7 linked regions of the Homo sapiens genome follow. The protein of the gene in region 1 interacts with the protein of each later gene in a pairwise test. Each region holds a gene or a part of one and is shown on either strand. Other genes may lie near its edges. The genes, in order: RNF10, CASP6, UBE2E3, COQ8A, HIP1, PRPF40A and LAMP2.

Region 1 (4,371 bases):
TGGCCTCCCCAAGTGCTGGGATTACAAGTGTGAGCCACTGTGCCTGGCCGAGAACAGTCTTTTCAACTGCCTTGAAGACTAGCCATTTTCTGGGGTTCTAAGGGGTGAGAGAGGAAATCTGGCTTACTGCTGTTTGATGGAGTCACGGTCTAGGTTAATTTTAGTTCAAGGGATGCCTTTGGGGAATTTGGCTGGACTTGAAGCAGAAGAAAACAGTTCATGGATTTAGACTTCTGCCTGCTGAGTCTTTGGGTTCTTTCCAGAGCTGGAGCTCAGAACTGAGGCTGAGGTCCTAGTGCAGTGCCTCATGAACCAGGGCTGCTAATGGCCTGCATTTGATTTCTAAGTGAATAGATGACAATTTCTGCTGAGGGTTTATTGGTAGATCCTGACAGTCTAGCTTTTTCCTGTCTTTCCTATTTCTAGCTGCCAATTTGTGGTGTCTGAAGACCAAGACTACACAGCTCATTTTGCTGATCCTGATACATTAGTTAACTGGGACTTTGTGGAACAAGTGGTGAGTAGCTCAGCCAAGCCCATAAGCTATGAATGGGAGCACTAAATAAAGGCACTGTGGTGACGCAGCAGCTGTTGGCTGTGTGCACTGCTTGATACCCTTTTCTGCCTGGCCTTTCTATAGATGTTTCCCAGAGGTCAGTTCCTGGTTCTTCCTGGAGTCCATTTTGTGACTAATTGGCTCTGGCCTGTAGGGATGGTGTATGAAAGGCTCTGATCTGAAGATGTGTAAGCTGGGAAGTAGTAACCCCTTACCCTCCTGATCTGGGTTGGGCTCATTACAGGGCCATTGCTTCATTGGCAGCCATTCGTAGCAATCACTATCAAAGTAGGCCTCAGCCTTGTGGCAGGGAGGCACATGAATGAGCCACACAGTTGTACTTTTCTTTTTTGAGAAAGAGTCTCACTCTGTTGCCCAGGCTGGAGTACAGTGGTGTGATCTTGGCTCACTGCAACCTCTGCCTCCAGGGTTCAAGCAATTCTCATGCCTCAGCCTCCTGAGTAGCTGGGATTACAGGCACCCGCCACCACGCCTGGCTAATTTTTGTATTTTTAGTAGAGACGGGGTTTCACCTTGTTGGCCAGGCTGTTTTTGAACTCCTGACTGCAAGTGATCCACCCACCTTGGCCTCCCAAAGTGTTGGGGTTACAGGCGTGAGCCACTCTATCTGGCCCAGTTGTACTTTTTTTTTTTTTTGAGACGGAGTTTCGCTCTTGTTGCCCAGGCTGGAGTACAGTGGTGCAATCTTGGCTCACTGCAACCTCTGCCTGCCAGGTTCAAGCGATTCTCCTGCCTCAGCCTCCCGAGTAACTGGGACTACAGGCACGCACCACCACTCCCAGCTAATTTTTTTTTGTATTTTTTTTTAGTAGAGATGGGGTTTCTCCATGTTGGTCAGGCTGGTCTTGAATTCCTGACCTCAGGTGATCCTCCCGACTTGGCCTCCCAAAGTGGTGGGATTACAGGCATGAGCCATCGTACCTGGCCTCTTTTTTTTTTTGAGACAGTCTTGCTCTGTCGCCCCAGCTGGAGTGCAGTGGCGCGATGTTGGCTCACTGTAACCTCCACCTCTTGGGTTCAAGCAATTCTCATGCCTCAGCCTCCTGAGTAGCTGGGATTACAGGCGTGCACCACTATGCCTGGCTAATTTTTGTATTTTCATTAGAGACGGGGTTCCACCGTGTTGTCCAGGCTTGTCTCAAACTCCCAGCTTCAAGTGATCAACCTGTCTCGGCCTCCCAAAGTGTTGGGATTACAGGCGTGAGCCACCACGCCCAGCTTCAGTTGCACTTTCAAAGCCACTGATGTGTTTTCTACTGAAGTTATAAACTCTAGGTATCCCCTTGTTGGTCCTAGTAGGGTATCTGTTGAAGAATAATAATTTCAAAATGATGGGCACTTTTTCTTTATGAGCAGGGGCTTTTGACCTTAAAGCTTGAACTCTCGCCGGGCGCGGTGGCTCACGCCTATAATCCCAGCACTTTGGGAGGCTGAGGCGGGCGGATCACGGGGTCAGGAGATCGAGACCATCCTGGCTAACACGGTGAAACCCCGTCTCTACTAAAAAAAAAAATTAGCCCGGCGCAGTGGCGGGTACCTGTAGTCACAGCTACTTGGGAGGCTGAGGCAGGAGAATGGCGTGAACCCGGGAGATGGAGCTTGCAGTGAGCCGAGATGGCGCCACTGCACTCCAGCCTGGGTGACAGAGTGAGACTCCGTCTCAAAAAAAAAAAAAAAAAAAAAAAAAAAGCTTGAACTCTCACTACTGTGAAAATGTATAAAATCATCTGAGAATGACATAGCATAAAAACTTAAGTTTTATTAAAAAAAAATGAAGTCTTTTTAATGCGTTCTTTGTTGGAAGTTACTGGTAGATTACTTCTAGACCCTTTTTAGGCCTTTATGCATACATATTAAGTTTTTTTATAAATGGGAATATAGTGATTTGTCACTTTTTTCTATTTAATGTAGAACCCCCAACATACCTGTTGTGTATTAGTTTTATTATATTTAACGGTTATTATGGTTTCCTTGATGCTTTGCTTAAAGAGCTATCATACAAAGCCAGGCGCGGTGGCTCACGCCGGTAATTCCAGGACTTTGGGAGGCCGAGGCGGGCGGATCACAAGGTCAGGAGATCAAGACCATCCTGGCTAACACAGTGAAACCCCGTCTCTACTAAAAAATTAGCTGAGCGTGGTGGCAGGCGCCTGTAGTCCCAGCTACTCCAGAGGCTGAGGCAGGAGAATGGCGTGAACCAAGGAGATGGACCGTCTCAAAAAAAAAAAAAAAAGAAAAAAATGATCATACATGTACCTACGTTGTAAACAATTTTAGAAAGATATGTTGAGTATAAGGATGTACGGGGATAGAGATGAGAGAGATGCGGATGAGAGAGTAGAGAGGCCTAAAACTTTGACAGTCCCTAATCAGTTCTTCAAGCAGTGAACCTTCTGGTGGCATTTTGTTTCAGCGCATTTGTAGCCATGAAGTGCCATCTTGCCCAATATGCCTCTATCCACCTACTGCAGCCAAGATAACCCGTTGTGGACACATCTTCTGCTGGGCATGCATCCTGCACTATCTTTCACTGAGTGAGAAGACGTGGAGTAAATGTCCCATCTGTTACAGTTCTGTGCATAAGAAGGATCTCAAGAGGTGAGATTGAGACATTTACTCAGTTAGATCCCAATCTCTTCACTCCTTGCCCTGCTACATATGAGTGTCCATGTTTCAGTGTTGTTGCCACAGAGTCACATCAGTATGTTGTTGGTGATACCATTACGATGCAGCTGATGAAGAGGGAGAAAGGGGTGTTGGTGGCTTTGCCCAAATCCAAATGGATGAATGTAGACCATCCCATTCATCTAGGAGGTGAGTTCTTTAAATTTTGGGGACAAATAATCCTGGGTACATTCTTTAAGGTGATTGAATATATCTAAGCATCAGAAAGTGAAGCCTTTGGGCAGGGCACATCTGGCATGTTCATATTAGTCATAGGATTCCAGTAGGTTAGGGTGGGGTTTGTAGAGAGTAGATTAATTATTGGTTTCAAGTTTGTTTAATCTATACATCCTAATTTTTCATTTTACAAGGTTTTATTACATAGTGTCTTTCACTGTGCCCAATCTTAGAGGTTCTGTGGTCAGCCAGTCTTGGTGCCTGTCGTCAAGAAACTCAGTAGTCCGATAGAAGAGACAGACTGGTAGACTGGCCATTAGGATAAAGAGTGTGATAAGTGCTCACAATGAATGCCAGAGATGTATTCCCTGTGTTTCATGCAGAAATGAGCATTTGATTAAAATAGCATTTCAGTCTCTGGGGAAAAGATAGATTTCTCAATAAATGGTATTGAAACAATTGATTCTCCCTAAGGAAAAAATAAAATTAGATTCCTATTTCATACCATTCATGAAATTAATTCCAGATAGATTGAAGAAGTAAATGTAAAAAATCCAAAAGTTTTAACCTTTTTATTTAAAAGAAAATATAGGACAATTTCTTTATAAATCCTCAGATGTGCATCTGTCTGAAGGATTGTGTGTTCTCATTTGGGTGGTAAATGTGTGTGTGTAATATTTTTTTCCTAGTGATTTTGACTGTTTAAATGTTTAGCAACTTAAAACATTAAAAATGTGTATTAATTAAAAAAAAATCCTCAGATATGGGTGGATTTTTGAACCAGGCTGAAATGATAGATGCTGTAAAAGACTGATAAATTTTATTTTTATTTTATTTATAGATATATAATATAATATGTATATATATATTTTTTTTTGAGACAGAGTCTGGCTCTGTCACCCAGGCTGGAGTGCAGTGGCATGATCTTGGCTCACTGCAACCTCTGCCTCCCG
Region 2 (4,371 bases), on another chromosome or scaffold:
AGTGTTTGCTAGAGTGGCCACTGGACCTGGTCATTAACTGGTACTGCAGGATGCAGGGTGCACTTTGTGAGAGTGAAGGTAAGTTACAGCTGGCCAGCATCAGAATTGGGATGTCCAGAGCCTAGGTTTTTTTCTACATCCGTAGCATTAACAAACAACAACAACAACAAAAAACTTAAAAAAAAAATCCCTCACTGAGGTTGCCAAATCTGTTAACTTTGAAACTGAATGTATTAAGAGATGGGGTCTAGCTCTGTTACCCAGGCTGGAGTATGGTGACTATTCACAGGGGCAGTCATAGCACACTATGTCCTAGAACTCTTGGGCTCAAGAGATCCTCCTGCCTTGGCCTTCCAGGTAACCGGGACTATAGGCTTGCCACTATGCCCGGCCAGAACGTCATTTTAAACAGATTTTCTTGAGCAGCTACTTAATACTAGTTAGCCATTCCTAAACCTGTAGGTCTTGACTAATGTGAGGGCATATTTGAGACAACCCAAACTCACATCTTAAGTTATTAATTTTAATGTGTCAGCTAACAACTGGGAAGCTACTTCTTTGGCAATATGAGAAACAAGAGTTTTAAAGACCCAAGCAAGAATACATCTCCAGTGTTTTCACCCTGAGGGATATGAGTTAGTTTGCTGAGCAGCCATTTGGCACAGCTTCCATGAGTTAGGTTGTGAGCCGCCTTCGGCTCAGCAGTCAGTATGGAGCAGAAGCCACAGGAGGTGAGCCGCTGGCCTGCTGCCACCGAGGAGGACACTGAGACATGAGTGCTTTCCAAGTTGTGCAGAATTTTGGCATGTGAGGAGGATGGTTGTGACATATGGATTTAATTTTCTTGAAGTTATTGTTTCTTTATACTCTAATTGGTTAAAAGATAAGCAGGTGAGGTTATCAAAAGGCAGTAGATTCCGACAGCTTTTGAAAATGGGAAGAGTGAAATCCCTGTGCTGTCTTCATAGAGCAGTGTGTGGAGTAGGAAGTACCTCGTTACTGTGCTCACCTAGGGCAAAGGTCGGATTAAACAGCTTTCTCATCTGCCATGCAGCGGGGAGGACCAGTTGGAGAGGTTGCTTTTGGCTCTCACACCTTAGTGTAAAAATCACTTTGTGAAAAATGCAGCTGTCACCTCCTTCCTCCAAGATTCTGATTCTGCCTCAGTTAGGATCCAGGAATCTGCATTTTAACATGCACACCAGGAATTCTGATGCCCAAGGTTGAGCAAAACTGACTTAGGGCGTACAGACAGAGGATGCCTTAGTGTGGGGTCTTAGTTGGGTCTCATTGCTTGGGGCAGTTCCAGGAGGAATAGGCTAAAAGGGACTTGAACTGAATTCCCCACCTTGTATTTTTTTTGAGGAGAAGTGAGGTTAGATCAATCAGGTGATGGGGGCTAGTAATGGGGAGATCTCTAAGGAGAGGGGAACCAACCCTTTTGGCTAGGAGATGATGGGTAAGAGTCCATGCTTTAGGGTCATTCTTCCTCAACTGAAGGGTGCATCTTGCTATACTGCTAATATTTCAGTTTATTCATTGCTGTCTCCCCTCTAAGCTGTTGAGCTATCAGGTAAAAACAGATGCATGAGTGGATGGGGCCTTTATTGTAGAAGATGCCACACTTTGCACTGTCCAGTGTAGAAGCCACTGGCCAATTCATTTAAATTGACAATAAAATCGAGTTCCTCAGTTGCATTAGCTGCATTTAAATGCTCAGTAGACACATGTGGCCAGTGGCTACCTTATGAGACAGTGCAAATACGGAACAATTCCACCATCACAGACACTTCCATGACATAGCACTGCTCTAGAGAGTAGAGAGGAATTCAGTGGAAGGCTGTCCAGGGAGTAGGGAGTCCAGTTGAGAATGGAGAGCAGAGGGCTCCCCTTACAGGGTTGGAAATGCAGATGTGTCATGCAGGAGATCCAAGGTCCAAGTCTTTGCCCTTGCCCTTCCCTTCCTCCACCCAAACTTCTACCTCTTCCAGGCTTACACCACTGCTAATCCAGCATTAACCACAAACTATATTTCAGTTTTCCTGTAGGACTTAATTCTTTTTCAGAAAATGTGCAAAAACATTTTCTGCATAACAAAGCAACTTCATATTTCAACTCCGTAATCACAGAACTGTTACTCTAGGCATATTTTGCAGTGAATGCATTTGTGTAATATTTTCTCCATTTCTGTTTATAAGATTGTTATTTTGCAGGTCAAGTTGGGGGTGAGAAAGCATAGAGCTGTTATAGTTTGTTTATTAGTAAGCAGTTTCCCTTCATTTCCTTTTCTTCACATACTTTGGCTTTTAAACTAACCAAAACAGAAGGGTCTTAAGAGTTTGGGAGTCAGAAGGGGGATGGGAGTTCCTACTATATTTTACTGCCATAAGTAAAAAATAATTAACAAAAATCAACTTTTTTTAATAGGTGGGGAAGAAAACATGACAGAAACAGATGCCTTCTATAAAAGGTAAAGCTGTGCTCTTTTCTAATAAAGGTCTCTTCCTTTGATGGTCATGATCAGCCTACAGAAATCAAAGCAAGAATGGGTCCTGGGAGCTAGGAAGTAAAACTGAGTAGGCCAAGTTTTAGCCTTTGGGGAGCTCATTTGTAGATAGGCAGGTTGTGCTGCCCCTGGTTGTCGAGGGACCCGGAGTGATGTTCAGAATGCATATTAATTGGCATGGCATGAGCCTAGAGCTAGAACTTGGTTCTGAGCCTCGTGGTTATTCCTGGTTGCTGGATCCTGGGGGCCAGGGGAAAGACATCAAGGCAGAGGGTTAGGGATGTGTCAGGATGGCACATGGCTGCTCTTTACCAATTGGCAGAGAGATATTTCAGGACTTTCCTTATTAGCATGGCCTTTCCTGGAGCACACCCATGGAACATCAGCCTGGCAAGGAGGAAGCTCAGATCTCTATCTACATGTTGACCTAGAACTTGGAGGGGCTCATTATTTAATATGACTTGAAGTGATTGTTTTTCAACTTTTCATTAACAGAGAAATGTTTGATCCGGCAGAAAAGTACAAAATGGACCACAGGAGGAGAGGAATTGCTTTAATCTTCAATCATGAGAGGTTCTTTTGGCACTTAACACTGCCAGAAAGGCGGGGCACCTGCGCAGATAGAGACAATCTTACCCGCAGGTAGTAGTTTTATCTACCTATCAAGATGAGGCAGTTAAGTGATAAAATTACTTTTGGCCAGGTGTGGTGGTTCATGCTGGTAATCCCAGCACTTTGGGAAGCCAAGGTGGGAGGATCACTTAAGGCAAGGAGTTTGAGACAAGTCTGGGCAACAGAGTGAGACCTGGTCTCTACAAAAAATAAAAATCAATTAGCTGGGCATGGTGGCGGTAGTCCCAGCTACTCTGGAGGCTGAAGGGGGAGGATTGCTTGATCCCAGGAGTTCAAGGCTGCACGGAGCTGTGATCATGCCACTGCACTCCAGGCTGGGCAACAGAGTGAGACCTTGTCTCTAAAATAAAAAATAAAATAATTTTTTTCCATGTTTCCAAATGAAAAGTTAAAAAAAATTAAAAATTAAAAAAATTCCAGACTTCTAGATGTAGGGAAAAGTTACTTATCATAACTTGTCAACACTAATGAGGTAACAACAGATCAAGAGTGTTGGAGCATGGGCCTTGCTTTGATGCAGCCTCCCTTAAGAACTTGCCTGAGTTGGCCGGGCATGGTGGCTCACTCCTGTAATCCCGGCACTTTGGGAGGCTGAGGCGGGTGGATCATAAGGTCAGGAGATTGAGACCATCCTGGCTAACATGGTGAAACCCTGTCTCTCCTAAAAAATACAAAAAATTAGCCGGGCGTGGTGGTGGGAGCCTGTAGTCCCAGCTACTCGGGAGGCTGAGGCAGGAGAATGGCATGAAGCCAGGAGGCGGAGCTTGCAGTGAGCCAAGATCAAGCCACTGCACTCCAGCCTGGGCGACAGAGTGAGCCTCTGTCTCAAAAAAAAAAAAAAAAAAAAAACTTGCCTGAGTTATTTTCCTTACTCTGTTCTATTAAATGTTGACAGGCTTTTGCATTTGTACTAACATTTGCATAGTAGACAACAACACTCTAAATTGAATCGGCTGTCATTATGATTAAATCCTTTCCGACCATGGTGAATGAAGGGAAAACCACCATTGTTATATTTCATTTCTTTTCTCCTAAAGAAAGCAAATTTATGTGTCGTTAAAATGTGTATAGATTCTTCCAAAGTAAGGGTATTTGACAACTTTGAAAAGTTTATAGGCTAACATTTCATTTAATATACCACTAGGTTTTCAGATCTAGGATTTGAAGTGAAATGCTTTAATGATCTTAAAGCAGAAGAACTACTGCTCAAAATTCATGAGGGTAGGTAGTTT
Region 3 (4,371 bases), on another chromosome or scaffold:
TTTTACAATGCTGTTCCCTCTTAGTCATTTCTTAGTCGTTTCACCACCCTTTAAGTTTCCAGGAATAATCTTTTTCTTTTCCTCTCGTTCTTTGTGACCAGAATTTCCTTATTTTTACATCTCTTTTCTCCTTGGTTTATAAAGATATGTTTGAAAGAGTAGGAAAAGATCAGAGGCCAGAGTGAATACCTGCCAACTACATGAACTTTGAGAGCCAGAGTGGTCAATTCGAAGGCACTCTGGTTTATGTAGTTTTAAAATGTCTAACCATATATCATACTTTTCAGTATTTTTTACTGCAGATATACAGTACCTTATTTAATATTATAGAAGAAATAGTTTAAATAAATTTTGTGGACCAGGATTTAAACCACCTTAGTTCTATGGTCCAAATGTGTTTCAAGTTCCAAAATACCTGATTTCAGAACAAATTTTTGGAACATACTCGTTTATAAAAGTTAGTAACTCTTTTTATAAACCATTACTTACAGAAACATTGACCTCTTATTTTAATATATAAATATTTGCTTGTTCTAAAATTTATTTGTATTTTTTAAATTAATAGCTTTTTCTGGGCAGTTTTAGGTTCATAGCAAAATTGAGTGAAAACCCCTTGTATCTCTGCCCCTGCACAGACACACAACCACCCCTGCTATTATTGTCCCACACTACAGTGGTATAGTTGTTACATTCCAATCGATAAACCTACATTAACACATCATTATCATGCAAAGTCCCTAGTTTTCATATGGGTTCACTCTTGATGTTGTACATTTTATGGATTTTTACACATATATAGTGACATATCCGCCATTCATACCATACAGAAAAGTTCACTCCCTTACAGATCCTCCGTGCTGTGCCTCTTCATCCCTTCCACCCCACTAACCCCTGGCAACCACTGATATTTTTACTGTTTCTGTAGTTTTGCCTCCAGAATGTCATATAGATGGAGTCATACAGTATGTAGCCTTTTCATATTGGGTTCTCCCACTTACTAATATGCATTTAAGTTTCATCCATATCTTTTCATGGCTTGATAGCTCATTTCTTTTTAGCACCGAATAATATTTCGTTGTCTGGAGGTACCACAGTTTATATATCCATTCACCTACTGAAGTAACATCTTGATCACCTTCAAGATTTGGCAGTTATGAATCAAGCTGCTATTCACATCTGCATGCAGAATTTTGTGTGGACATAAGTTTTCAGTTCATTTGAGTAAATACCCAGGAGTGTGATTACTGGATCTTATGGTAAGATATGTTTATGTTTGTAACAAGATTGCCAAACTGTCTTCCAAAGTGGACATCCAGATGCATAAAAATGAATCTAGATATTTTGCATTTCCTGTACCATTTTGTATTCTCCACTAGCAATGGATGAGAGTTCCTGTTACTCCACATTTTCTTCAGCATTTGTTGTTGGTGTTTTGGATTTGGGCCATTCTAATAGGTGTGTAGTGGCATGCTTTTCTTGTTTTAACTTGAAATTCCCTAATGACATGAGTTTGAACAGTTTTTCATACGCTTACTTGCCATCTGTTTATCTTTGGTGTGAGGTATCTGTTCAGGTATTTCACCCATTTTATAATCAGGTTGTTCATTTTCTTTAGTTTTAATGGTTCATCGTATATTTTTGATAACAGTTCTTTATCAGGTACATCTTTTGCAAATATTTTCTCCAAGACTGTTGCCTGCCTTGTTCTCTTGACATTGTCTTGCAGAGCAAAAAAAATCTAGGCTGCAGTTACAGATTTGGAAGTTAAGAGCATATTGGTGGTATTGGGAGCCGTAAAACTGCATAAGATAACCAAAACAGTATATGTAGGTAGAAAAGAGAAGAGTGTAAGGTCTTAGCTCTGGAGGACTGGTGATATTTAAAGCTTAGGGTGATAAGGAATAGGAATAGAGAGTGAGAACGAGGGGCCAGGAAATGTAGGAAAGCTAACAAAGTATGTTATTCTAGGAATGAAAGAGAAAGTGTATCAAGGAGGATGTGATTGGCTGTGTCAAATGTTGCTGGACCAGTCAAATAATATGAAGATTGAGAAATGATCATTGGGTGTAGTGATGAGGTCATTGGTGACTTTGGATAAGAGCTGTTTCAGTGGAGTAATGGGAGGAAATGCCTGTTGGGAATGAGTTCAAGTAACAACAGAGGAGAGAAACTGAAGATAGCAGATGTAGATAAGATTTCCAAGGAGTTTTGCTGTCAAGGAAAGATGATTGAGATGGAAACTCGAAGGGAGAGAGAAATAGAGATTTTAAAAAATAATAATAAAGTTGGGAGAAAGGGCATTGTTGGATTCTTATTGGCATCACTCACCAGAGAAGGAAAAATGGATGATGATTCAAGACAGTGGAAGAGACAGAGAGTGTCGGTCAGTTGCTAGCCTCTAATATGATTTGTTTAAATTACAGTGGACTCAGCCCTGCAACTGCTCATGTCCCTTCCTGACCCCTTCCCATCTTGCCGTATGTTTTGACTAACAGATGGTACATTTATGAGAATGAAAAGAGGCCCCTAATCCAGACAGGTAGCCAACACTACCTGGATTTTAGGACTGGATTTTAGCCTTCACTTGTCCTAAACTAGGTGTCTTTGGGTACAGCAAAGTAATCATACTACCATAGCTTCTCTGCTTAGTCTACTCCAAGACAATAGGAAAAGTTATTTACTATCCTGCAATAGTTAAATGTACACTTTGTCCTATAGTTAAATGTACACTTTGTCCGATGGCAAATAGCATGATAAGTGGGAAGAGAGCACATTTAAGAACTAAGAATTTGGTGTGGGAATCCAAGCTCTTCTATCAACTGGCAGTAAAATATATTTGAGGAGAGTTTAAGGCGTATGAGTCGTCTTACCAACAAGTAATTATGAGTTTAGATTTTATTTGAACTATCTCTCTTGTTTGTATTTTATAAAGTAATGGTGTGTTAAGCGCAGTGCACCAAAATGTAACTAAGACTTAGTAGCACCTAGGACTCAGATCTTGGTTTTTCTTACAACATTCGCACTGAAAGGAACCCTGGCTCTTTGGAAAAATGTTTGATTCCAAGGATGGGATTCCTTATGCCAAAGGAAGGAAATGCTTAAAAAAAAAAAAAAAAAAGATGCTAACATGTTGCAAGGATATAGGAGTCATTTTGAAAGGGTTCCCCATCAGCCAAATCTGCAATAATTTGGGTATCAAAATAATTAAAGTCAGTAATGACTTATAAAGCATTGGGAAAAAATGAGACCATACCAGTAATACTTCTGTACATACGTACAGGCAGGAGAAGAGGCTCAAGGGGTAACTGTTAAGTGTAGAGAAAGTTCTAGAATTGGAAAATCATGATTTTATTGCTGTAACAGAATACCTGAGACTGAGTAGGTTATAAGGAAAAGAGGTTTATTTGGTTCACCTGATGGGCATCTGCATCTGTTGAGGGCCTCAGGCTGCTTCAACTCACAGTGGAAAGGCAGGCATCAAGTGCAAAGAGATCACAAAGCAAGAGGAAGCAAGAGAGAGAAACCAAGGAAAGCCACTCTTTTTAACAATGAGTTCTCTTGGGAACTAATTCATTCTTGCTAGAGTGAGGACTCACCCCTGAGGGAGGGCATTAATTTATTCATGAGGGATCTACCCCTCTGACCCAGACACTTCCCAACATTGCCGCGTTTGGGGGTCAGATTTCAACTTGAGTTTTAGCAGGGACAGATCAAACCATAGCAATCACAAATGGATGCTAAATCTTGGGAAGAAATTTTGATAAGAAGCAGGATATTTGCCTGGTCTTGAAGTGTCTGTCCAAATATTGCTTATTGGTTGCAGGGAAAAGATAGTAACTAAGCAGTAGGAAAATTGGATAGCAGTTTGTCTGGATGATGAAACTTAACATCACCAATGAGGTACAGGTAGGTGCTGTGTGCCTCCAAATGTGATACCATGAGAAGGACACATACTATTTCAGCCAGACACCTACTATTTCAGCCAGAAATGCGTTACATGAATCAAATCATGAGGAAACATGGCAAGCTCAAAATGATGAGCATTTTTTAAAAAAGAAGACTAGATTCTGCAAAAAACGTTAATGTTATAAAAGTTAAAGAAAGGCGGAAAGGACCCATATTAAAGGAGAATAAAGACACAGGAAATAACGTGGTTCCAAGACTGGGTCCTGCATCGGAGAAAAATTAATTTTTTAAAAGGGTATTACCGAATCAGTTGACAACATTATAATACAAATTGTACTTTAAAGAATTGTATTAATGTATTTACTGAAATTGTAACTGTATTGTAATTTATAGGAGATTGTTTTTAGGAAATGCACACTGACATGTTTATGGGGAAAAGGCCGTGTGCAACTTTCAGGTGACTCA
Region 4 (3,622 bases), on another chromosome or scaffold:
GATCTGACAGTGGTGCTGGGCGCCGCTGCTAGCCAGGCAGCCTCACGGACGCCACCCAGGCCTCTCCATCCTGTCCCGGAGCCCACTGGGTCTGCTACTCGGCAATCCCAAATTTCAGAAACTATATTTTCTTTCTTTAAGAACCCTGAAAGCCTATACCTCTCAAAGCCTCTTTTGGGCCTGTGCATTCTGCAGATGCACTTTCAACTGCTCACAGGTCCGTAGAAAGGGCCCCAGCTCAGTGTCCAGTGTGTCCTGTTATCTAGGAATCAGTCTGGCCCCAGGAAAAGCCACTTTTCAGGACGTGGTCCTCAACTGCAGCTGATGTCTAGAGAGGAGACGTCTCACTGTGATGCAGACCTGGCATCAGCCGTGCTGGCAGGTGTCACTGTCCTCCCAGTTGCCACCATCACCAGGTACAGCAGCTTCAGCAGTGTGGTACAGCCTCCCGGGGGCTGGGGCAGTGACACCGCAACCTCTCCTCCTGTTCTCCACCCCTCCCACCTCCCTTCTTACAGGGAACGGGGCTGAGCCTTCCAGGTTCAGGGCCAAGGGCCTCACGCTGAACCAGTCCCAACCCTTGCAAATGGGCTGTGACACTGAACCTGCTGACCGTCAGGTCAGAAAAGAACCACCACCACGAGCTAGAAGATACGGGTCGTCATTCTCCAGAATACAGAAGAGGGTACACGCGCCAAAGCACTTCCCATGAGCATTTTTATTAAATTGAAACAAGTTGTTGATTCGATAATTACAAGACTTGTACAAAAATTCACAGCGCCTGTGAGGAGCCTTTGGCTGGAACTGGTGACACCTGTGCCTCTCCGGACAGAGGAAGGAAGTCCCACCCCGCCTTCCAGCAGCAGCGAGCCTGTGTCTGGCATTCCCTGTTCCGCTGCTCCCACCCTCACTGTGGGGCAGCAGTTCTTTAGGAACATTCAGCTGTCAAAGGTGAGAACCAGCCCCACAGGCCTGGGCCTCGCAGGCTTAAGGAGCACTTGTTGGCACTGTTAGCTCAGCACCTCTCCCAGCTCCAGCCCATCGGCTGGAGAGGAAAAGGGCAGAAAACACAAATCTCACTCTAGAAACACATACACACACCTACTACACAGATGATAAAATCCCACAATCGTATCTGTTCATGTTTCTGGGTTTTGCACTGAACAGAGATTGGAAGGGAGTAAGGACTCTCTCCCTTCTGCTTAACATTCACATCAGGAAAAAGAAGAAAACAAAGTTGCCCTTTCATCTTCATCTGCTTATTTCAGAGGACACACGGAGGCAGACTGACCGAGCAGTGGGGCTTCATCTTCATTCTTGCACTTCTCACCCTACAACCATTTAGCAACAGAAACCGTGGAAAGCGCTGGCTACGGGGCTCCAGGCAGCCACCCCCCTTATTGGGCAAAGGAGTTAAAAAGAGCATCACCACGACCTCGCTACTGGTTTTTGGCCTGTCTGAGGGAGAGAGTTCCCGCGGAGCCGGCCTGGGCGTGGCCCGCAGCCCTACTGCTGGGCCTGCCTCTTGCAGTAGTTGCTGTAGGCCTCCTCGAACATGGCCTTGCAGGGGAAGCGGGCCTTCAGCTTGGAGCAGATGAGGAAGGAGCCCCCCATCTTCCTGTGCAGGGAGTAGGTTTCCTCGGGTGGGGGGACGAGACGGTGCCTCAGCATGACGGGAATCAGGTTGTGGATCTTCTCGGTGGTGCTCTGAGTGCCAAAATCAAAAGGCTCATCAGAGGCGAAGGCCTCCCCCAGGATGAGGATGGCATCCAAGTGGGCGTCTTCCATGACCTGGGGCAAGAGAGGAAGGATAAATGGCGGCGAGACACCAGAGCCCTCCACCAGCCCGGGTTCCTCCCACAGTGCCCGGGGCGCTGAGTTCTCATTCAAAGCTCTGCTGTAAACTGGATTACATCATGGTAATGGGCATAAACTCAAACCCACAGGGGCCGGGAACACGAGGGTAACATGGACTGGGCTGATGTGATACAAAAGGGAGTGGCGGGGCCTGTGGCAGAGTGCAGAGGATGCGTCCCGCCTCGTGGCACTCATACAGAGTTTTAACAAAACACTGTTCTGGCCAAAAAGAACAGAGTCCGTGGGCCTAAGCTGGCAGGGCCTCCCACCATGCGTGTCTGAGCCTGCCAGAGTCCACCCAAGACACACCCAGCAGCCGTGTGTCTGCCCACGGGAACTAGCAACCTAAGGAAGCCGCCGCCAGCAGAGCAGGGGAGAGGAGCTGCCGCCAGGGACAGCCCAAGGTGGTCAGAGGGACGGGGCGGCCAGGAATCGAGTCAGTGCGAGTGGCCATAAGGAAGAGGCGGGAGAGAGCTGCTGCCCGCTGAGCGCTTACAGCTGAGATAAGGGGGGCTCAGAGATACTGACAAGCCTCAAATGACACTCCTATGAGACGGCAGACCCAAGGCTTGACCTGGATTTCTTTAACTCCTTCCCCACTGTCAAGCAGCAAGCGGAAAATGCCACTTTGTGGGTGGCTTCAGGCGGCACCAGCACAGACCGTTCCCCTTTATTTAAAAGGCTTCTAAGGTTTCTTCCAACTCCCCCCAGGGAGGCTCGATGAGGGGAGGGCTGGGGCTTCCCTTCCCACTTGCTCTGCACGTTGGCTCAATCGAGGCCCAACCCCAAGCCCTAAGTGGGCAAGAGTGAGAGGCAGAAACAAGAGCTTCACGACAAGTCCCCAACTCACTGGCCCACTCGGAAAATCTCACGCTCAGCAGGGCAGCATGGGCCGGGGTGGGCCCCAGCTTTCAGACCGTGCCCAAGGAGGCCCGGGCTCTGGGGGCCCCTTGAGGGCAGCTGCCCCCTGTGCTTTCATCCATTCTTACACAGGGAGCCGGGCCCTGGGTCAGCAGGCCCAGGGGATCCCCCGCAACCCTGCTCACCTTGACCTCGTAGCCGGTGAGGAACTTCATCTCTATGGATTTCGCCCGCACAGTCTCCCTGTCCCTGTCGGCAGCAGCCCTGATGATCTGGGGAGAGGCACAGGAGGGGACCGTGGGCAGCATGAAAAGCTCAGCTCCCGACATCCCAGGGAGCCAAGTGCCACACCCGAGCCCACCCCACCCTCATCCTCTCCCTGCACAGGGCCCCCGGCCAGTGCTGTGACACCACGCCTGGCAGCTGTCAGCCTAACTGCCTGCTGTCACCAGACCTGAGGGGCAGGCAGCGCAGATGGGGACACAAGGGCAGGAACCCAGTCATTCTCCCTACCCCGAGTCCCCCAGCATCCTGTCCCAGCCTCAGAAAAACATGGACCAAGGCCAGGGCCCCTCTCCAGTTACCTGAATGTAGAGGTCGGTGAAGGATCTGTCATATTCCCGCGTTGCCCCAAAATCCAAAAGAGCCACCTGGGGACAGAGACACCAGGAGAAGTTTGGCCCTGGTGCTCCATGGTGCGGGTGTGTGGGGCCGGGAAGGGGGTGCAACAGAGGGCAGTGAGGATCCCCACTCCCAGAGCCCTGAGCTCTCTGCTGACTTTCCCAGGACAAGGGGCAGTCCAGGGCCTCACGTGCCCCATTCGGAGAAGCTCTCAGGCCTGGCTGCGGGTGCCCCCACCCTGGGGCTCACCTTGTGCTGCTGGGGGTCATAGAAGAAGTTGGAC
Region 5 (4,371 bases), on another chromosome or scaffold:
CTCTTATTTTTAACTTTTTTTTTTTTTAAGACGGAGGTCTCACTGTGTTTTCCCAGGCTGGTCTTGAACTAGCCTCAAGCGATCTTCCCACCTCAGCCTCCCAAAGTGCTGGGATTTCAGGTGTGAGCCACTGCACCCAGCCTCTGGTGTTGAAACTCTTTAGGGGTGTAGGAGAGTAAAGAAAAAGAACCAGCCTGGACAACATAGTAAGACCCCATCTCTACAAAAAATAAAATTAGCTGGTTGTGGTATCACGTGCCTGTTGTCCCAGTAACTTTGGAGGTTGAGGTGGGAGGATTGCTTGAGCCCGGGAGGCAGAGGTTGCAGTGAGCAAAGATTGTGCCACTGCATTCCGGCCTGGGCAACAGAGTGAGACCCCATCTCAAATAAAAAAAAAAGAAAAAGAAAAAGAAAAGAAAAGAAAAGAGAACAGCCCTAAACCCAACGTTAGTCAATCTGCAAAAAAATTATTTTGTTTAATGACTACCTATCAAATGTATTATGAGGTTGCAGAGCTTGGTAAGCAAAGGGAAAAAAGGGGAAGAATGTATTATGAGATATAAAAAATGAATTAGAAAAAATTTAATGAGTTAGGAGACCATGAGAATCAGCCAAGGTATAATAATAACTAACTAATTATTGTGTTTGGCAGTATTCTAAGGACATCATTGTATTACCTTTTTAAATCTTGACAAGAACGGATGAGGTGGGTATCAGCCACATTTTACTCTCAGGACGATTGAGGCACAGAGAGGTTAAGTAACTCACCAGAAGTCACACAGCTGGAAACGGTCTCAACCTTTACCCACTGCCTCAGGCAGCCTCTGAGTACTGAGCAGATGCTGGCATTGGAGTTAGAAGGCATTTGAGGCTTACAGCTGGGCATGTACATGGGCCTTGTGGTCTCTGGGAAGTTGTCTAACCTTTCTAAGCCTCGGTTTCCTTATTGTCAAATAAACATAATACTTACCTGGCTGATTTATTGTGGGGATTCAATTAAGCCCAATATGCCTGAAGGCATTTTGTAAACTGTGGAGCACTAGTTCAGTGATTATTGTTATAATCTGACTGGGGAGACGAACCCGAGACAGCAGAAGTGTGAGCAATCAAGCAGGCTGTGATTAACTCTTCCTTAGAGGGATAGATGTGGTACTAGGTAATGGGATAATTACCAAGAGCACGTGGATAAAGCACAGGCTTTGGGGTTGGGAGCCCTCCCCGAGGACTGAAGCACATCTTGTAGCATGAGTTAGTGCTTGCTGGGTGGAGGAGGGGATGGGGCATTCCAGTGACAGAAGAACATAAATAAAGAGACATCTAGACTAGGCAGATAAACTTCCCAGCGGGTGCAGTGGAGACTCATTGGCTGGGGTAGACAGAGAGGCAAAATTGGCCACTCCCTCCTCTGAACTATAGCAGGGCTGGTGACCTCTCCTAGTTCCTGTGACCTTGTGCTGGCATCATTTCTCTCTGTGGCCCCCATTGAACACTGAGCTTATTGAGGGCAGGTCTGTGTCTTGCTCTTGCCTGCATCCTGAAGCTCATGGTTAGTGGTGAATGGGGTCAGCAAGGGAACCCTGGGCCTAGGTGGGTAGTTCAGCCCTGGGCCACAGGATATATTAATAATTACTTTATTTATTTTTATGTAAGAGATGGTCTCGCTCTATTGTCCAGTCTGGAGTGCAGTGGCACCATCATAGCTCAGTTTTGCCTGGGACTCCTGGGCTCAAGTGATCCTCCTGCCTTAGCCTCCTGAGTGCTGGGACTACAGGAGCATGCCACCATGCTTAGCTGATCTTTAAAATTTATTTATTTATTTATTTATTTATTTATTTATTTATTTATTTGAGACAGAGTCTCACTCTGTTGCTCAGGCTGGAGTGCAGTGGCGCCATCTCGGTTCACTACAACCTTCGCCTCCTGGGTTCAAGTGATTCTCCTGCCTCGGCCTCTCGAGTAGCTGGGATTACAGGCGAGCGCCACCACGCCCGGCTAATTTTTTGTATTTTTAGTAGAGACAGGGTCTCACTTGTTGACCAGGCTGGCCTCGAACTCCTGACCTCAGGTGAGCCGCCTGCCTCAGCCTCCCAAAGTGCTGGGATTACAGGTATAAGCCATCGTTCCTGGCCTAGAATTTTTTTTGTAGAGATGGGGTCTTGCTGTGTTGCCCAGGCTGGTCTTGAACTCCTGGGCTCAAGCAGTCCTCCCGCCTTGGCTTCCCAAAGTGTTGGGATTACAGGTGTGAGCCGCCGTGCCCGGCCTATAATTACTTGTTTTCTTATAATGCTCCAGGGTCGCTGTTGGTCTAGCCTTGCCTCCCGCATACCCAGTCTAGAGCCTGGCCACATGCCCATCAAAAGACTCTCACTGCTCTGCCTGCCTTCTTCTGTCCTGGCGTCTATACCCTCAGACCAGCCTTGCATACCTACTCCTGCCAGCCTCCTCCAGGAAGCCTTGCCTCCTCAACTCTCCTGCACCATCCTCACATTTCACCTGGCCACTGTCACTGCCAGAGGAGGCACCACTGACCTGCCTCATGGCCCAGCCACTGCACCCATCTCCAACCAGACCCTTGGTGTGTTCCCCACCCAATCCATCACAAGCCACTTTCAAGCTTTAGGGAAGTGAAAAGTACTGCCTGCCCTCAAAAAAAAAAAAAAAAGAAAAAGAAAAGAAAGGAAAAGAAAAGAAAACCCAGCCGTAATAAGGAGACCTTATCAGGAGTACTTTACAGTTTATAAAGCATGTTTCTAGCCATCATTGGGACCACACGGTGGTCAGTCATTATCATTTTCATTTTATGGATGAGGACATCGTGACTCAAAGAGCTTGGTAACGTGCCCAGGGTCATCCCACGGGTGAGTGGAAGGGCCAGGATTCAAAACCAGGACTCCAGGTTCCAAGTGTCAGGCCCGTTCGACCACACTGTCCTCCCACCAGCCAAGAGGGCAATTCTGGAATCAGCCAGGAGGGCTGTCAATCACAGGACAAATAAAATAGTCTGTTTTTACTTAGCTGGAAAATGGTTTTCTCCATGGTTTGTTTATTTCTTCAACATCCGTTTAGTGAGCACATACCGTGGAGGAGACACAGAGATGAGTAAGATAAAGAGACCGGCTCTGGGGGGCTCGTGAGTCAGCAGGGAGGCAGACTGGCCACTGCGGGGCTCCTGGACAAGCCTTGGGGCTCTGATGTGGTCAGGCCCCGAAACACCAGCATCACCAGGGCCATTAGGATGTTGGGCACCACCCAGAACTACTGAATCAGGACTTGTCGTGTTCACCACAGCCCTGGGTACTCTGTGTACGCTGATGTTTGAGCAACAGTGCTCTGTAGTAGGTGAGTTCTGGGATTAGAGGAAAAGACACAGAGTGGGGAACAAACCTTTAGAGAGTCAAAATCTCTTTGGGTGAGCCGGGCGCAGTGGCTCATGTTTATCATCCCAGCATTTTGGGAGGCTGAGGCGGGAGGATGGCTTGAGCCCAGGAGTTCGAGACCAGCCTGGGCAACATAGCGAGACCCTGTCTCTACAAAAAAATCAAATCAAATCAAATAATTAGCTGGGCATGGTGGTGCTGCCTGTAGTCCCAGCTACTCGGCAGGCAGAGACAGGACGATTGTTTAAGCCCAGGAAGTTGAGGCGGCAGTGAGCCGTGATCACACCACTGCACTCCAGACTGGGTGACAGAGCCAGACCCTGTAAAAGGAAAAACAACACAAAAAAAGCCAGAAACAAACAAAAAAAGTCGGTGGATAGCGCATACGTCAGAGCAAAGGATCTTAATGCATCCTGCGTTGAGAAGAGCCTTAGATCCTAGAGAGAAAGAGATAGAAACAAATATTTATTGAGGGCCTGCTGGGTACCAGGAACATGCTGGGTGATTTATATCTATGATTTCATTTTAATAGCTCAGGCTCAGAGAGGCTAAGTGACTTGTCCAAGGTCACACAGCGAGTGAACCGAGAAGCCAGGACTTCACAACCAAATGGCAAAGTCCTTTTTTTCATGTTTACGTTGCGGGTACTTCTGCCCTCTTGCTCATGATCTTAAGCAGATGCTCAGCCTTAGTTCAGCAGCTAAAAAATTTTAGGGCTGGGCTAGAAGGATCTGCGGTTCTCAACCCTGGCTGGAGAGCTCTTTGAAAAAATAAAATACTGTTTCTCTGGGCCCCCTGCATAAGGATTCTGTCTCATTGGTATGGGGTGATCATTGACATTTTGTAAAGTCCCAGGTGGTTCTCATGTGCAATCAAGATGGTGACCGTGGGTCCTGATGGGTTCCCACACCCCTGGCACCCCACGGACTTTGGGTGGCTCAGTTGGTTCTGGTTATACTCAGAAAACCAAGATGGCCCTAAGCCTGCTTCCTGC
Region 6 (4,371 bases), on another chromosome or scaffold:
TAAGTAAAAGAAACTATTAAGTTTCCATGGGAATATAAAGATTTGTATGTGAAGACTGTTTTGTATTTTTAGAAAGTTTTAGAAATTGAGCAGTTTGGCAGCCACATGGATTGATTGACTAATAAAGAAAACTTGAAATTTTTCTTGTAAAGCAGATAGAAGACAGCTTTTAGGCACATTTGAGGTATTATACCACATTAGCTGTGTAGAAAAGAAAGTTTCTGGAAAGTAATGGAATAAATGGTAAGTTTTTGTTAAAATAAGCAATGAAACAATAACATCTCAGGTCACTTTAATAGGTAAGGTTCACTGGGCACGGTGGCTCACGCCTGTAAAACAAGCACTTTGGGAGGCCAAGGTGTGTGCTGATCACCTGAGGTCAGGAGTTTGAAACCAGCCTGGCCAACATGGCGAAATCCTGTCTCTACTAAAAATACAAAAAAATTATCAGGGAGTGGTGGCGGGCACCTGTAATCCCAGCCACTCAGGAGGCTGAGGCAAGAGAATTGCTTGAACCCAGGAGGCGGAGGTTGCAGTGAGCCAAGATCATGCCACTGCACTCCAGCCTGGGCAACAGAGCGGGACTCCTTCCCCAAAAAAAAAAAAAAAAAAAAAGTATTTTGATGACAGTTTCAGTTAGGCCCTTGTAAGTATGCTGAATTGACCAATAATTATTGAATAATAGTATTCGATGCCTATGTGGGCCAGTGTTCTAATTGCTTTATGTATATTATATTTATGAACTGAATCCTTTCAATAAGCCTGTGAAGTTAATAGGTGAACAAACTAAGGCAGAGAGAAGTAAAGTGACTTACAGGGTTGGAAGCCGGGCATGTTGACCTTGGTCAGTGCTTTTAACAAGTATGCCATGCTGTCAGTTTTAGAGTAGCTAATACTTTATAAGCTAAAAACTAGTAGGTGCTTAATATTACAGTGTTGCATTGTAAATGGGCATAGGTCACTAAATTGACTATTTCCTATTTCTTGATTTATTGTTCTTGATTAATATAATGTTAACCACAGTTTTTTCTGTACCATGTACTCACGAAGGCCCTGTATTGTTTCACAGCTGCCTCTAGATGTGGTCCTGTTGGCCTTTTTTTTTTTTTTTTTAAAGCGGGGTCTCTGTCATCCATCCACTCCTAGGCCAGAGTGCAGCGGTGCAGTTATGGGTCACTGCAACCTTGAACTGTTGGATTCAAACAATCCTCCTAAGTAGCTGGAACTGCAGGCACGTGCCATCACACTTGGCTTTTTGTGGGGCTTTTTTGGTTTTTGTTTTTATAAAGATGGGATCTTGCTGTGTTGGGCAAGCTGACCTCAAGCAAGTCTCCTGCCTTGGCCTCCTGAAGTACTGTGATTATAGGTGTGAGCAACCATGCTGGGCCTCTAGATCTTTTCTGTGCCAAATGTAGTGCATACCAGAAGCATCTGCATTACCTAGGAGCTTCTTAGGAATGCAGAACCTTAGGCCCCATGGGGCAGAAATCCTGCGTCTGACTTCATTTTAACCAGATTCCCAAGCATTAAAATATACATTTAATTTTGAGAAGCTCTGCTCTAGATAGTGACTAACCTATTTTCCCCCAGTTCAAGAGTCTACAGATTCTTTCATGATCTATACTGGGGGTAAAGTAGTTAGGTGGTAAATGGAGTAAAAATGGTACCATAGGGAAGGGCTGAACACATTCAGATTTTGGGGCCTTAATAATCTGAGGCTTGAGGTATTAAAGAAAGGTAGGTTAGCATTCAGTGAGATCAAAAGGAGAATAGTCCATTCTGAGATCCAGATTTTCCATTTCCACTTCTGTAACTGAGGTAGAATTTATTCTCAAAGCCATAGAAATGTTTAGGGGCAAGGAGCTTGTACTGTAGCACCCCCCATCACTGCTAACCTAGTAATTGTTTTAATAAGTAGAAATCCACAAAGACAGCATATGGATGTCTAACAATGTCTTGTTTGAGGAGGAAGGAAATGGCTCCTTGGGGGAAATGAAAGAGGGGTAGCAGATTTTGCATTTATTCTGACATCAGCCTTATATATCTCAATTCAAGGATGGCTCTCAGGTTGTTCTTTATCTTAGTGCTTGGCCTAACTTGCTGACCAAAGCCAGATTGATTACAAAAACCATGTCTGAGTGTCATTGTATTTGACTGTCATTAAAAGCAGATGTCACTGCATATTACACTTTTCTTCTAAATCACACCATTCTCTTCCTTAAAAAATACTTTTTCAGGCTGGGCACAGTGGCTCACGCCTGTAATCCCAGCATTTGGGAGGCCGAGGTGGGCGGATCACAAGGTCAGGAGATCGAGACCATCCTGGCTAACATGGTGAAACCCCATCTCTACTAAAAATACAAAAAATTAGCCGGGCATGGTGGCAGGCGCCTGTAGTCCCAGCTACTCGGGAGGCTGAGGCAGGAGAATGGCGTGAACCCGGGAGGCGGAGCTTGCAGTGAGCTTAGATCACGCCACTGCACTCCAGCCTGGGTGACAGAGTGAGACTCCATCTCAAAAAAACAAACAAACAAAAACTTTTTCAGCTGGGTGCAGTGGCTCATGGCTGTAATCCCAGCACTTTGAGAGGCCAAGGCGGGTGGATCACCTGAGGTCAGGAGTTTGAGACCAGGCTGGCCAACACGGTGAAACCCTGCCTCTACCAAAAATGCAAAAATTAGCTGGGCGTGGTGGTGTGCACCTGTAATCCCAGCTACTTGGGAGGCTGAGGCAGGAGAATTGCTTGAACCTGGGAAGCGGAGGTTGCATTGAGCCAAAATCGCACCACTGCACTCCAACCAGGGTGACAGAGCGAGACTTCGTCTCAAAAAAAAACAAAAACAAAAAAAGCCCTACTTTTTCTACTAACAGTTTTTAACATTGTTTTGTTTAGATGTCTAAATGAGTGGGTATAGGATGGGCAAGAAGGAAAAGAAAAAAAAATTGACAATTCTTCACAGTTTCAAGGGATTACATTTCTATATATTGTAGAGTTTTACTCTAAGAACTTACTTCCGTAGCTTTTTAAAGATTCTTTACAGTCTGTCTACAGTAAGTGTAAATTCTTGAAATTTTTTTTTTGTCCCCGTAGCATGAATGTCAGCATCATCATTCAAAGAACAAGAAACATTCTAAGAAATCTAAAAAACATCATAGGAAACGTTCCCGCTCTCGATCGGTAAGGGAATTTATTATATGGTGTCATGAGTGTATTAAAGTGTTAGCATTATTATGAATGAAATTATTTGTGTTTTTTAGGGGTCAGATTCAGATGATGATGATAGCCATTCAAAGAAAAAAAGACAGCGATCAGAGTCTCGTTCTGCTTCAGAACATTCTTCTAGTGCAGAGTCTGGTGAGCATTTCTATTTATTTGATTAAATCATTGACACTGATATACTCAAAGTCTGACACTTTTTATCCTTTTGTGCTACTCAGAGAGAAGTTATAAAAAGTCAAAAAAGCATAAGAAGAAAAGTAAGAAGAGGAGACATAAATCTGTAAGCAAGCTTCTAATTTTTACGTTTCACCTAGGCTTTTGCCCTTAACTTCCTCAGAGATCATAGAACCTTTTTCTATCTAGTTCTCTGCAGCCCAGGACAGTTCAGGTGGGCACATAAACTTAGAGTTTTGTTGTTGCTCTTCACCTTAATCTTCCATTAAAATCAATTGTTGAGCTTTGAAAAAATACACACACCAGTGTTAGGATCCCCATCCTGGTCTTTAAAATTAATATTCTAGAAAGAGACTCGTGTGTGTGCATGTGTCTCTGTGTATGTATGTATGTTTGTGTGTATGTGTAGATTGCAGCTGTTGTTGAGAACCACAAGTTTAAATGTTAAAACAACCACTCTACTCTTGCAGTTCTTATTCTTAGGTGTACATTAAGATCCACCTAAGGAACTTTTTGAAAATCTGAAGGCCTGGGTATCACCACAGACCTGTTGAATTACATTCTTTTTATTTGAATTTGTGCATATCTAATGAATAACCATTTAAGCACTAACGTTAAATTTTAAATAATTCCTACTCAGCAATTTCAAGAAAATAATTTTATTAATACAGCTGTCTGCCTTATGTGTTAAAGCTAACAGCAGTATACTATGTACATATATAAACCAATATTATATTGAGTTGGTGAGAAATGTAGTATCTGTCTGTATTTACATAATAGATACTACACATCTATTATGTGGTAGTAAGTCTCATGAGTGGTATTTTATCCTTCAGAATATTATCCTTCCCAAGGGAAAGCTGTCCCCATGAATCTTGGGTAAATTTTACTAAATCCTTGAGGTTAACAATTCACATTTTATTTCATCTCTCTAAGAGCACATAACCTGTTACACATAGATGTTCTTAAATATTACC
Region 7 (3,695 bases), on another chromosome or scaffold:
AAATACATGCAAATAACAAGATTTTCTTACCTCTCAGTTGTTGAAACACTTTGCTTCTTAAAATTGATATGTTGAAACTTTAATTCTTTTATCAATCCCAGCATTTTGAGATCAGTCTTTATTAATAAAACCTGTTCTCTTTAATCAGCTTAAAATCCAAAGTGTCATATTTACTGGTCCTGGAGACAAACTTGTTCAAAAGAACATCAACGTGCAATGTTTTAAGGTCTATCTTAAGAAGCCCTGGCCAAATTTTGATCCTAACCTTGAAGTATGCCTTGAACTTATTAACATGGCCATTATAAGAATAAAATATGTAGTTGTGTCTTAATGGAATTAATAAATGTCATTTCACTACTGGTGTTCTGTTTCAATGTATAAGGACTATAGTGATTTAAACTCATCAATGTGCCTTTGCATAAAGTTCATTAAATAAATATTGATGTGGTATAAATGCCCATCAGATATGCTTAAACTTGGTTTTCAGTTGAATGAAGTAGAGAATGTCCTCAGGACCATCAGCATTTTAAAGGTTATGTGACTTTTGCTGATTTCTCTGAGTTCAAGTTAAGCATGAAGTTAGTACCTCAAGCCTGTGATTTTTCCCTAGGGATGATACAGACCCAAGAGGCTACAACAGAACTTAAACTGGCTTCGTAATTAGAGTTTTTAAGATAATTGTTTGTTTTTCAGCAATATAGACTGAAAAGATCCAAGCATATTTAGCCACTTGCTTTTTTGTTTCTTGTTTTGTTCTTCTTTGGATGCCTGATTAGTATTGAAAGATAGAAATATTCTATGAACTAATTAGGACAGATTGTGTTGTGTTTCTCTACCTCATCTTGTTGATCTCTGGAGCATTAAAATCTATTTAGTGTTGTCATCAGTGTGGTACTTATGAAATGTAAGCTAACAGCAATCTCAGAAGGGAGGCAGTGAAGCATAGCAACTAGGCTCTTGTTTCTTCAAGATGGCCCCTGTGGGGCAGTGCATAGATGGGGGTGTAAAGAGAAGCTGTTGGCATTAAAATGAGCTAGATAATCAGCCCTTGTTGAAGCATATTCCATGGTATAAGAGTAGCACAGACATGAAACATAGATAAAGAAGGAAGGCTTAATAGACTAGAAGACTTCCACATTGAAGTATTATTAACCCATTGTATGTATATAGGGGCATGATCAGAGTCTCTATAACTTCCTGATTAACAATACAGTGTATCTTGTTACCCAGCTGTCAGTCTTTGAGAGCTTTCAGTAAAATATAGTAAATTCTTTCAGCATAGGCTAATGTGTGGTTACTGAGATGAGTGTTGTGTACTCAGAACCGTAGCAACATTTTTATGAATGGTAAAAGTACAAGAGGAGGAAAAGTTAAAATTAGAAGAAAAGTACAAGTTATTGCTTAATCATAAATCACACCAGATAACACATTTTGTTAATTTCATTAGCTATTACTGGAAAGGACCTTAACGATTATTTACAGAAAGGGGAGTGAAATTCATTGAGGTTCCATATCAAGTGGGCAACAAAACTATTACTAGCATTTTGATAAAAATTGCCCCTAATGAAATCTAGTCACTCAACAGTAAAACAACAGCTGGTTTACACTTGAAATTATGAGATCAGAATTGGGCACTTTGGGCTTCCGTACTATGTTTTGCTTAAGTTTTTTTTTTAATACTAATATGGGCTTTTTCAGTAGTAATATACCAAAACACTTCTATTTTAATCTCTGTTTGCTACTTCAAAACCTAATCCTCCTCAGATGGGATCATGAGCATAAGAGGAAAAGAGAAGAGAATGAATACTTGTTGACCTCTTGATGTGTATCAGATGCTTTAGAAATGTAATTGTATTTAATCCTCAAATACCTTATAGGTATTATTATCCCCTTCTTACAGATGAGGAAAGTGAGGCCCAGTTTAAATAACTTGCCCAAGGTCCTTTGGCTAGTACTGGAAGGAGTCAAGATTTAAACACAGTTCTGTCTGAATCCAGAACTCAAAATCTACATTGCACATGTTGCTTTCCTGGTGGTTCGGTGGAATGGACTGCAACGCATTAGATACTGCTGTTATTCTTCCAGGCCACCGCTCAGCTAAAAATAATTGTGTGTGTGTGTATATATATATATATGTACACACACACACATATATATACACACACACATATATATACACATATACATATATATACACATATATATACACACACATATATATGTATATATATACTACATTCTTGATCCTAAGTCTTTTTTAACTTAAATTTTATTACTTATACAGAATTCTTATTTATACTTTAATTATAGGTGTGACGAAGAGAAAGAGAGTAGGGAAATACACAGGCAGTGGTTTTAAGTGTAGATGATGGCTCCTTAACCCAGTGTCATTAGATAATCAAACCTAAAGTCTTCCCATATTAGGCAAGCGCAATTCTCTATTTTGGACCCTTCCCATTCTTCCCTTACCTTCTGCTTTTCGTACTGAGGAATTTCGTGTGATTTTAGATAAAGTGATAATGAGATATTGAGCAAATAAGAAAATAGAGGTAATGCTATAAAAAACTAAGCTATGTACACTTTCAAAATGCATGTTTCTTGCATGCTTTTTACTACTTAATTGCATTCTTTGCTAATTTCCTTTCCTTGCTGTCTGTTCTTTTCTAACAGCTGAAGAATGTTCTGCTGACTCTGACCTCAACTTTCTTATTCCTGTTGCAGTGGGTGTGGCCTTGGGCTTCCTTATAATTGTTGTCTTTATCTCTTATATGATTGGAAGAAGGAAAAGTCGTACTGGTTATCAGTCTGTGTAATCAGTTAAATCTAGTGTTTGTTTGTTTTTTTCAATTAGAAGTTACGTTTCCATTGGCTAAAAGCCAGGACATGCTGTGCAATAGATTGTTTAAGATATGCAGACTAACTTCAGTGAGTTCCTAGCTAACTTGGGCATGAGTACACTTATTTAAGACAAAATATATTAGGACCAATTTTTTTCTGTTTTTTTTCTTCCTTTGTTAAAGTATAATTAAAAGAAAAATTGTGGCTTAGAATTTTTTAAGTAAATAATGATTTTAAGCCCCTGGATCCAATTATGAAAGCATTTTTGCTGATGTGTAATTTTATATGTTACAGTTACTTATATTTTACTACTTTGATGTTATTTGCAAAATCAAAGGTGTTAAAGAATTTAACTTGCTTCAGGAAATAAATTCAAGAACATAGTGGATTCATTTTCATTGGTGGCAGACACGAAATTTGGTTCATGATAAGACTTCCTTTCCCCACCTCCTGATCAGCATTATTTAAATCTGTATTTTTCTGTTAGTTAAGAAAGAAATGGCTTCATGATATTGTATTTAATAGCAAAAGTTTGGCTGTCTTCTTCATTACTGTTAATAGCTACTATATTTTAACAAGGAGATTTCTTTTTTTGTTGTTGTTGTTCTAGAGTTTGGAATATACTGATTATCTCAGACTTGACATTTATACTGAAGGATGAAGTAAGACCTCCAGCTTTTTTTAAAAAAGGTGTTGATTTGGAACACCTGTATGGGTTATGGTTTATTAAGGTTATGGTTTAGAAAGTTTTTTTCCCTCAGAGCCTTAACTTGTTAAGAAGGTTCATTTATCCTGCACTGAAAACAAAAACTCTATATACTTTGTTTGTGTGCCTCCTGCACTCTCCCATTCCCTAT

Evidence for each region.
Region 2: the proteins of RNF10 (region 1) and CASP6 interact in binary tests that used the Homo sapiens proteins (3 or more experiments, as listed by UniProt).
Region 3: the proteins of RNF10 (region 1) and UBE2E3 interact in binary tests that used the Homo sapiens proteins (3 or more experiments, as listed by UniProt).
Region 4: the proteins of RNF10 (region 1) and COQ8A interact in binary tests that used the Homo sapiens proteins (3 or more experiments, as listed by UniProt).
Region 5: the proteins of RNF10 (region 1) and HIP1 interact in binary tests that used the Homo sapiens proteins (3 or more experiments, as listed by UniProt).
Region 6: the proteins of RNF10 (region 1) and PRPF40A interact in binary tests that used the Homo sapiens proteins (3 or more experiments, as listed by UniProt).
Region 7: the proteins of RNF10 (region 1) and LAMP2 interact in binary tests that used the Homo sapiens proteins (3 or more experiments, as listed by UniProt).

Annotation. Positions count from the first base shown.
Region 1 is NC_000012.12:120,554,292-120,558,662, forward strand, and holds part of RNF10 (E3 ubiquitin-protein ligase RNF10), read left to right. Parts: intron 1-426; coding exon 427-517; intron 518-2,990; coding exon 2,991-3,175; intron 3,176-3,254; coding exon 3,255-3,391; intron 3,392-4,371. UniProt on the Homo sapiens protein: E3 ubiquitin-protein ligase that catalyzes monoubiquitination of 40S ribosomal proteins RPS2/us5 and RPS3/us3 in response to ribosome stalling.
Region 2 is NC_000004.12:109,696,399-109,700,769, reverse strand, and holds part of CASP6 (caspase-6 isoform alpha precursor), read left to right. Parts: intron 1-2,427; coding exon 2,428-2,470; intron 2,471-3,001; coding exon 3,002-3,148; intron 3,149-4,283; coding exon 4,284-4,360; intron 4,361-4,371.
Region 3 is NC_000002.12:181,052,982-181,057,352, forward strand, and holds part of UBE2E3 (ubiquitin-conjugating enzyme E2 E3), read left to right. Parts: intron 1-4,371. UniProt on the Homo sapiens protein: Accepts ubiquitin from the E1 complex and catalyzes its covalent attachment to other proteins. In vitro catalyzes 'Lys-11'- and 'Lys-48'-, as well as 'Lys-63'-linked polyubiquitination.
Region 4 is NC_000001.11:226,984,622-226,988,243, reverse strand, and holds the end of COQ8A (atypical kinase COQ8A, mitochondrial), read right to left. Parts: coding exon 3,589-3,622; intron 3,369-3,588; coding exon 3,303-3,368; intron 2,991-3,302; coding exon 2,904-2,990; intron 1,792-2,903; coding exon 1,507-1,791; 3' UTR 700-1,506; downstream 1-699. UniProt on the Homo sapiens protein: Atypical kinase involved in the biosynthesis of coenzyme Q, also named ubiquinone, an essential lipid-soluble electron transporter for aerobic cellular respiration.
Region 5 is NC_000007.14:75,731,722-75,736,092, reverse strand, and holds part of HIP1 (huntingtin-interacting protein 1), read left to right. Parts: intron 1-4,371. UniProt on the Homo sapiens protein: Plays a role in clathrin-mediated endocytosis and trafficking. Involved in regulating AMPA receptor trafficking in the central nervous system in an NMDA-dependent manner. Regulates presynaptic nerve terminal activity.
Region 6 is NC_000002.12:152,658,077-152,662,447, reverse strand, and holds part of PRPF40A (pre-mRNA-processing factor 40 homolog A), read left to right. Parts: intron 1-3,091; coding exon 3,092-3,178; intron 3,179-3,258; coding exon 3,259-3,355; intron 3,356-3,438; coding exon 3,439-3,500; intron 3,501-4,371.
Region 7 is NC_000023.11:120,427,602-120,431,296, reverse strand, and holds part of LAMP2 (lysosome-associated membrane glycoprotein 2 isoform A precursor), read left to right. Parts: 3' UTR 1-2,670; coding exon of another isoform or gene 2,671-2,813; 3' UTR 2,814-3,695. UniProt on the Homo sapiens protein: Lysosomal membrane glycoprotein which plays an important role in lysosome biogenesis, lysosomal pH regulation and autophagy.